Regions from separate parts of the Homo sapiens genome. Here region 2 is linked to region 1. Evidence: fine-mapped expression QTL. A gene starts in region 1. The other region holds a variant in brackets. All regions are shown on one strand. Distances are from middle to middle. Region 1 holds the start of RRP12 (ribosomal RNA processing 12 homolog). Region 2 overlaps RRP12 (ribosomal RNA processing 12 homolog).

Region 1 (4,384 bases):
TTAAATTACATATGTGGCTTGAATTTAGATTACTATTGGACAGAGCTGGTCCAGGAAGACAGACAATGACCCATTAACAGGAGCTCTGTGAATGATTCAAGTTGGGGGATCTACCATCACATTATATTATTCTTATATCATTTTGATATCATTTAGAATTTTGACATTTTTTATTTCAATAACAAAAAATATATATAACTTTATAGTATAGATAAAATAATAAAAGTAAGGCCAGGCACGGTGGCTCATGCCTGTAATCCCAGCATTTTAGGAGGCCAAGGTGGGCGGATTACCTGAGTTCAGGAGTTTGAGACCAGCCTGGCTAACATGGTGAAACCCCGTCTCTACTAAAAATACACACACACAAAAAATTAGCTACTTGAATAATGCACTATTTAAATATACTAAAAAAAAAAAAAAAAAAATTAGCCGGGCGTGGTGGCACATGCCTGTAATGGCAGCTACTTGGGAGGCTGAGGCAGGAGGATTGCTTGGGCCTGGGAGATGGAGGTTGCAGTGAGTGAAGATTGCGCTACTGCACTCCAGCCTGGCCAACAGAACGAGACTCTGTCTCAAAATAAATACATGAATTAAGTTAAATTAAAGTAAATAAATTTAGTTCTTGCTAGATAAAACGTTTCCTAATCACTGTTACTCAGCATTTATTTACTCAACATATGTTTATTGAAAATACTCTGTGTAAAAGTGCTGTGTTAGGTATAGCTGAGGAGAGAAATGTTTGGAAAATATTTCTACCCTCAAGTACTTAAGCAGAGGAGATGTTCTTATAAAAAGCAGAAAGTAGAACCTGCCCTAGGAGGAGACATAAAGGGGAGGAGCGATGACGCATCATCCAGAAATACCAGCTGTTGTCATCGGAGACCTGTCGGCCAGAGCTGAAGAAAAGGCATGAGTTGGCCTCTCCTCACTATCCTATGGCCCTCCCGACCCTCGCCCCTACCTCCTTGTGGGCAGCCGAGTTGGACTCCCAGAAGCGCTGTACTTTGCTGAAGGTGACGTTTGTGCAGTCGGAAAGGCCACTCAGGAAGGTACCCGAGGACTTCTCGGTGAGAACCAGCTCCGCCTCTTCTTCCATGGGCGTCTCCGGGGCTTCGCTTTTGCCCAAGCGCAAGGACCCTGACTGCAGCTCATTATGTAACTTCACAGCATCGACTGTCAGGTCACTCCTTCCTGAGAGCCAGAGGCACAAGATAAGGTCCAAGCCTCCTTTTGGTCAAGAGAACAGAACAACCCCTGGGAAACAAACCAGCCCAGGCCAAATCTCCAACCCGAGAGGCTGAATTCTGAACACAGCCAGTCTCATAAAACCACTGTATGCCTAAAAACTTGAAAAACCAAGGAGAAAGGGAATCCTCCATGTAAAAGTTTCTGCTTCCCTGTAGCAGCGGCATAAACGCCACTGGGAATCGGCTGGGAGCTACATTCAGAGGGCCTGCAAAATAAATGAAGGTGAACGCGCTCTGTAAAGAGCTACCCAAGGTCCAAGCCATCTGTCTCAACTCTGACACCCGCGGTACCTTACACAAGACATTTCCCTACTGCGGACCTCAGTTTCTGTATCTGCTAAATTGGAAGGACTGCCCTTCAGAGAGGGCTCCAGATCCGACATCCTAAGAGACGAAAGGTCCAATGCCTGGCCCCGCACTCTCCCAGAGGCCCCAGACTCATCTGGACCCAGGTCTGCCTGGAACCCCGCCCCCGGCTGCGCTCGGGTCTCAACCCAGCTACCTGACGGCCGGCTGAAGAAGCGGCTGCGGGCGGCCTGACGGTGGCGGCAGATGGCGGGGTTGCTGTCGCTGCTGTGGCCTTTCTTCCAGCGCTTCAACTTAGCTGAGACACCAGAAGGCAACTTTCCCGAGCGACCCATGTTGACTAAGCCGTGGCGAGGAATGAGCTTAAATGACCGGCTTCCAGGGACGTAGAAACACGCTCAGAACCCACGTGGATACCCTGTAGCCTTCACTTCCTCTTCTTCTGGCGTCACTTCCGGATTCGTGTGCATTACTATGGTAAAACAGTCAACATCCGGTTTTACACCTCCTCCTGGCTTCGGATGGGGAGGAGCTCCAAGGAGATCCGTTGCTAGGGAGGAAGTTAGGTTGCTAAGGGTTCTATGGGGTTCTTACTCCAGCCAGGACCAGGTTTCAGGGCCACAGGCGTAAGCCTTATAAAACTGGAGTTTGGCTGAGCGTGGTGGCTCATGCCTGTAATCCCAATACTTTGGGAGGCTGAGGCGGGTGGATCATTTGAGGTCAGGAGTTTGAGACCAGCCTGATCACCAGGGTGAAACCCCGTCTCTACTAAAATAAAAAAATTAGCTGGGCTTGGTGGCGCGCGCCTGTAATCCCAACTACTCGGGAGGATGAGGCACAAGAATCACTTGAACTCGGGAGGCGGAGTTTGCAGTAAGCCGAGATCACGCCTCGGCACTCCAGCCTGGACAACAGAGTAAGACTGTCTCAAAAAAACAAAACAAAGCAAACAAAAAACTGGAGTTCTTTTGCAGTTAAACAACAACAAAAAGTACATTTATATTACATTTGAAAATCTATTTTCAAAATTAAGCATAGAAACACATTTATATGAAAGTCATATACCTTCATATAAAAGTATATATGTAATCCCAGCACTCTGGGAGGCCGAGGCGGGCAGATCACCTGAGGTCACGATGTTCGAGACCAGCCTGACCAACATGGAGAAACCCTGTCTCTACTAAAAATACAAAATAAGCCGGGCGTGGTCGCGCATGCCTGTAATCCCAACTACTGGGGAGGCTGAGGCAGAAGAATCGCTTGAACCTGGGAGGCAGAGGTTGCGGTGAGCTGAGATCACGCCATTGCACTCCAGCCTGGGCAACAAGAGTGAAACTCCATCTCAAAAAAAGAAAAAAAGAAAAAAAAGAAAAGTCAAAACTTATGGAGACTTGAAAGTGTGAAAATTAGCTTGACTTGAAAAGAGAAAAAAGCAGTCAGTGGTGTTCTAGACAAGCTTTGCTATTTTCATTTATTACTGGAGATACTCAGTTGCTAAGCCACCTTGCCTTATGACAGCATTCCATCCCTAATTAATCCCTGGTTCTCCAATTTCTCTCTCTCTCTCTCTTTTTTTTTTTTTTTTTTGAGACAGAGTCTTGCTCTGGTGCCCAGGCTGGAGTGCAGTGGCACGATCTCGGCTCACTGCAACCTCCACATTTCAGGTTCAAGCAGTTCTCCTGCCTCAGCCTCCCAAGTAGCTGAAATTACAAGCATGCACCACCGCGCCCGGCTAATTTTTTTTTTTGTATTTTCAGTACACGCAGAGTTTCACCATGTTGGCCAGGTTGGTCTCGAACTCCTTTCCTCAGGTGATCTGCCCACCTCCCAAAGTGCTGGGATTACAGGCATGAGCCACCGCACCTGGCATCCGGCCAATTCCCAGTTCTCCTAATTCCACCTCAGAACCAGCAACCGATCCAGTTTATCCCCACTCCCCTGAGACCCTCCTTAAAATCCTTCAACCAGATCCCAAACCTTACAAAAGACACATTTCTCTTCCCTCTTGCCCAGCAGCTTTATTCTAAACCTTTAGCAGCATTCTTTGGAAGAAGATATATAGAACTAACAAAGTACATCTATAATATATAAAGAATTCCTACCAATCAATAAGAACAAGGCAGACAATCCAATAAAAAGAATGGGCAAAAGGGACAGGTGGGTGCAGTGGCTGATGCTTGGCCTGGAATTCCAACACCGTAGGAGGCCGGGGGGCAGGGAGTAGAGGGGAGGAAGGATTGCTCCAGCCCAGGAGTTCAAGACCAGCTTGAGCAACATCATGAGACCCAGTCTCTACAAAACATACAAAAATTAGCTGAGCATGGTGGTGTGAACCTGTAGTCCAGCTACTCAGGAGGCTGAGGTGGGAGCCCAGAGAAAGTCAAGGCTGCAGTGAGCCGTGATTGCACCACTGCACCCCAGCTTGGGTGACAGTGTGAGACCCTGTCTCAAAAAAGAAAAAAAATTAAAAAAAAAAAAAAAAAGAATGGGCGGCTGGGTGTGGTGGCTCACGCCTGTAATCCCAGCATTTTGGGAGGCCAAGGTGGGCAGATCACGAGGTCAGGAGTTCAAGACCTGGCCAACATAGTGAAAAACCCCATCTCTACTAAAATACAAAAAAAATTAAGCTGGGCGTGGTGGTGGGCACCTGTAGTCCCAGCTACTTGTGAGGCTGAGGCAGGAGAATTACTTGAACCCTGGAGGTGGAGGTTACAGTGAGCTGAGATCGTGCCACTGCACTCCAGCCTGGGCATCACAGCGAGACTGTGTCTCAAAAATAAAAAAAAAGAAGAATGGCAAAAGACACAAACAGCTGAACATCATGATGTATT
Region 2 (4,384 bases), 31 kb before region 1:
AGAGGTCTGATGTGACTCAAGCCAGTCACACATGGGAAACTGAGGCAGTAGGTACAGTGCACAGCTTGGCTGGAAGCCTACGCCAGCCTGGGCAAGGCTTCTCTTGGGCAGGAGAGGGCCAGGGACCCTATACCAAGGGGCTCTTCAGATCCTTCTGCAGCCCAGCAGGGGACCCAAAGGAATGGCCTCTAACCAGCAAGGTCAAAATGCAAGATGGGAAAAAAAAAAAGGCAAGATGAGGGGGTCCTGTGGAGGGAGAGCCCAGCGTCTGAGTCCCATGATCTGGAAAATCTCTGGCCCAGTTTCTCCATCTGTAAAATGAGGAGTGGCCCTGCCCATGGGCCTTTGCCCTGAAGAGCCCCTGTTGCTTTCCATGTAGGGCTCTGGGGTGAAGAAAGCCACCTGGGCAGTGTGCCCCCTCCTCGCCTCCACCTGACAGGCATTCCCCTATGGTCCCTTTTAGGGCTCCTTAATGACCTCTGGCTACAAAAAAAATAGTTTGAAACTTGCTGGCCTCGAAGCTTGCCAGGTCCATGCCAACAGCTCAGAGGCCACCCTGCTACCTGCTAAGGGGAACGGGGACACTCACCACCAGCTGCACATGTTTGGCCAGGTGCGCCACGTCCATGACAGTCACTGCCACCTTGATGAAGCCCAGTGCAGACTTGACCACGTCACGGGTGCGGGAGGCCAGAAGCAGGCACACATTCTCCAGCAGCTGCTCCACTGTACTGGTCCCCATCAGACCTGTGGCAGTGAGGGGGTCACTGTCTAAGACACCCAGGACCCCACTCAGACCCAAACCTTCCCCACTGGAAAACAGCCACTCAAGTGTCAGTAAAAGCTGACATTGAGAGCCTTTCCGTATGCCCGGGATGGTTCCAATCACGCTCCATGGAGTGGTCTTGGGTCCTTTCGTCACCCTGAGGTGGGTGCTATTTCTTGCTTCCATTTTAGAGATAAGAAACTGAGGTGCTAAGAGGCTAATCAAGCTGTTCTAGGTCTCATGTGGTTGCCAAGAGGCAGGACTAGGACTAAAATCCAGGCATCAGCCCTAACCACCTCCTAACCACTCTGACAATGGGATGCAGGGCCACTGGACTGCACAGTCACACGTGGGGACAGACCTGAGGAAGGTGCCTTGGCATAGCCGCAAGGGCGGGAGGCAGCGACCCGCAGGAAGGGAGACAGGGAGGCAAACTGGGCTGGGTGTGGCTTTTCTTACTTCCTCCAGGCACCTTTTCCCAGTTCCAGGAGCCACTTTATCCTGACCTTTTGGGCATCTTCCTAATCTGAGGGCTTCTCAGGCCTTCTAGGAAATAAGCATTTACCTTTAAACTCGAAAAGGAGGTGGGTCAGGGCCAGGATGCTGCAGCTGACCATGGTCACCGCGCCCACCAGGCCAGGGTAGATCAGGACGAGGTAGCACTGCAGGGCCTCTGGGGACAGAGACCAACGTGGGTCAAGCAGGAAGGACCCACCAGGTAGGGGGGCTGAGGGCCAGAGAGGAGCAGCCTGCCCAGGGCCAGGGCACAGAGCTCTCCCCACCTTTTTTGAGGGGTGCTTCCCCCCACCCAGTCTATGAGCAGAGTGTCCACCCCCAGCCCCCTGGGCCTCACCTTCCTGGTTCGAGCCAAACCTTAGGAAAGCATGGCCCATCTCCACGAGCAGTGCAAAAGCGTTCTTCCGTGCGCCCACCGACACCTCCTTGGTGCACAGGATCACCTGGCCAAGACAACTCCATCAGCATCTGCTCCCTGAGCCATCTGCCCGGGAAGCGAATCGAGTCCTCCCACTCCCATCACTGCCCTCCCTGGATCCTGAGGCCCTTAAGAGCCACATTCCAGGGACCCCCCTCTAAAACACACCCGCACACTCACCTCTGGGATGAGGGCAGTGATGAACTCCTTGTGTTCAGCTGAGAGCTTCCTCACGATGTGTAGGAGGCACTTCAAACGGGGCTGTGGGCAAAGGGCTACCAGTCAGGACCCCTCAATGCTACCTCCACCCAACAAGCCTCAACAGTGGCTCCTTTCCTGGTGTTGCCCAGGCTCCCTCGGCAGAGCGGGTGGCCCTAGAGCCCTCACCCTCTTGGCGGGTGAGGAGGTGCTCCGCAGCGAGTCCAGCAGTGTCTTCTTCAGGTCCTCCAGGTGGCTCTGCACGAAGAGGGCCCCGGGGCCCTGAGGACTGGCACACACCTCCTCCAGCACTCGGTAGGCCTTCTTCTGCACCCCGTGGGCCTTGCTCTGGCAGACAGGAACCGGTGAGGGAGGCCTGGGGCTCACTCCCTGTCCAATGCTATCCACGGAGCATCCCCCAGCACTGGAGGGATTCTGAGCAGGGGTCCGTGGGGGCTCATGTGGCTTGACAGAGGACCAGTGGAATGTGGACAGCGAG[T/C]GGCTAACTCCTGGGCGAGGCACAGGGGTTGGGGGTGTGTGCCGTGGGGCCCACCAATCCACTCCACTCACCCAGCTCTGGACAGTGCTCACTCCAGTGGCCTGAGCTCATGGTGCCTGGCACGCGCCAAGGCCTGCACATCTGCTGCTCTTTCTAGCCGGAGCACTCTTCTCTCTCCTTCCAAGACTGACAACTCCTTGCTCCTCCAAACCAGCTCTCTGTCACACTCCCCCAACCCCCAACGCCGGACACCTTTCCTGAGGTGACGTGGCCTGGCCCTGGATTTCCATGTCCACCTGCAGTGCTGCCCCAGAGCACTTCTCACACTGTTAGGTAACTGCTACTAAACTGTGGCAATGGGGGCAGCTTTCAGGGGGTCACTGCTGGGCTGAGATCTGCAGGGTTGCTGGCCACAGCAGAGGGCATTTCAAGCTGAGGACCCAAACCCTGCAAAGGCACAGACAGGGCCTGTTATATCAGGGAGGCTTAAGGCAGCTGAAGGAGGCTGCAGCAGAAGTAGAGAGTGGACTGGGTGGGATAAAGCTCAGGCCGGTCTGGGATGGGCCTGGGGAGTGAGCCAGGCAAAGGAGCATGGCCTTGGTTCTACAAGAGTCACTCAGCACGCAAGGCCTAAGCACAGCTGTGCATTTCAGTCCCTTTGGGACCTGCAAGACAGATGGGCTACACAGGACACAAAGAGAAGCCACTGCAGGAGAAAGCAGACAGGGACCTGATCTCGGGAAGCAGCAAGGGACAAAGACATGAAGACAGGCCCCACCTTCCCACAGCCCATCTGCCCCCAAGCGTGGCTGTGTGGCGCTCCTGGCCCCCGAGGCTCACCTCTAGGTAGGGCCGGATGGTGGAGTATAGCTTACTGATGGCAGCTTCGTCAGCACACGGAGCCAAGGCCACGACCAGGTCCAGGACAGACAATCTGCTCGGGGCAGGAGGACAAGGAGAGGGATGGGGAGCTGGAGAAGGGCGCAGACTACCAGTGTTCTTACGTCTACTGGGTATGGGGAGGTGGGAGAAGTCAGGGTGAGGACAAGGGGCTTGAAGGAGCTCATGAACAATAATAATAGCTAGTACCTAACTGAGCATTCATGATGTACCAGTCACCGTTCCTGGTGTTTTACACCTGCTAACTCCTTCAATCCTCATAGCAACCTTGTTGCAAGAACTATTATCGTGCCCATTTTACAGATGAGGCCTTAGAGGCAGAATGGATAAGTAATTTGTCCAAGGTCACACAGCCCATGAGTGACGGGGCTGGGATCAGAACCTGGGCAGTGTATCTCCTGGGTCCTTGTTCCTCCCTACCAGACTAAATGGCCTCTCCAGGAAGAAGGAACTAGTCAGCACAGCCTCTCAGCACAGCCTGGAGAGTTAATACTTCAAGGCTTCCTTAAATAATGCAAGAGGGAACCCACAGTGCTTCTGCCAGATGCACCCTCCAGCTCCCTGGGCTGCTCCAGCTCAAGTGGGAGGCCCTGAGCATGTTACCTGGTAAAGTCAGAGCTGGCAGGGTCGAGCACCTTCTCACTGGCTTTTTCCAGGAGACTGTTCACCAACTTGTGGCCCCGAGGGAATGAGGAGAAGAGAGTCATTGGGGAGGAGCGAAAGAAAGCAGCAATGGCAGCAGTCCCAGAGCGGCCTCCCCATCAGCCCCCAGCCCTGCCCAAGCCATGACTGCTGGTATGTGCTCCAAAACACAGAGACCCACGTGAGCCCTGGTGGGTAGGGTCTCGGCCTCTCTGACCCTGCCCACCTGAGAGCTCCCCTCCTCCCTCCTTCCCTCCCTTCCGTGGCTCACCTGAGTGTCAGTGATGGTGAGGTAAGTTCTGATGGTTTCCAGCACAGCCCGGCGAGGGGCTGGAGTGTCCCCGGCTGCCACGGGCTGCCCATACAGGTTGAAGAGGATCGGCAGAAAGTTCTTGGCAAAGCGACTCACTTCAGCACGGTCAGCCTCTGGTAAAAGGATCAAAGT

What was found. PIP is the estimated chance that this variant, and not a neighbour inherited with it, causes the effect. A credible set is the group of variants that fine-mapping cannot tell apart.
Region 2: its variant is the best candidate, but not a certain one, in a credible set for the expression of RRP12 in whole blood (TOPMed, PIP 0.81).

The regions. Positions count from the first base shown.
Region 1 is chr10:97,399,344-97,403,727 of GRCh38, forward strand. It overlaps RRP12 (ribosomal RNA processing 12 homolog), which reads right to left and starts at 1,997. Exons shown (of 34, transcript NM_015179.4): 1 at 1,750-1,997; 2 at 962-1,191. The coding sequence starts at 1,888. RefSeq lists an enhancer at 1,481-1,530.
Region 2 is chr10:97,368,836-97,373,219 of GRCh38, forward strand. RRP12 (ribosomal RNA processing 12 homolog) reads right to left here. Exons shown (of 34, transcript NM_015179.4): 18 at 4,211-4,365; 19 at 3,901-3,968; 20 at 3,238-3,331; 21 at 2,088-2,246; 22 at 1,881-1,961; 23 at 1,620-1,725; 24 at 1,332-1,439; 25 at 590-747. Among named protein-coding and RNA genes, the nearest start is that of RRP12, 30 kb to the right of the region's middle. The variant T/C (reference allele first, on the strand shown) is at 2,398.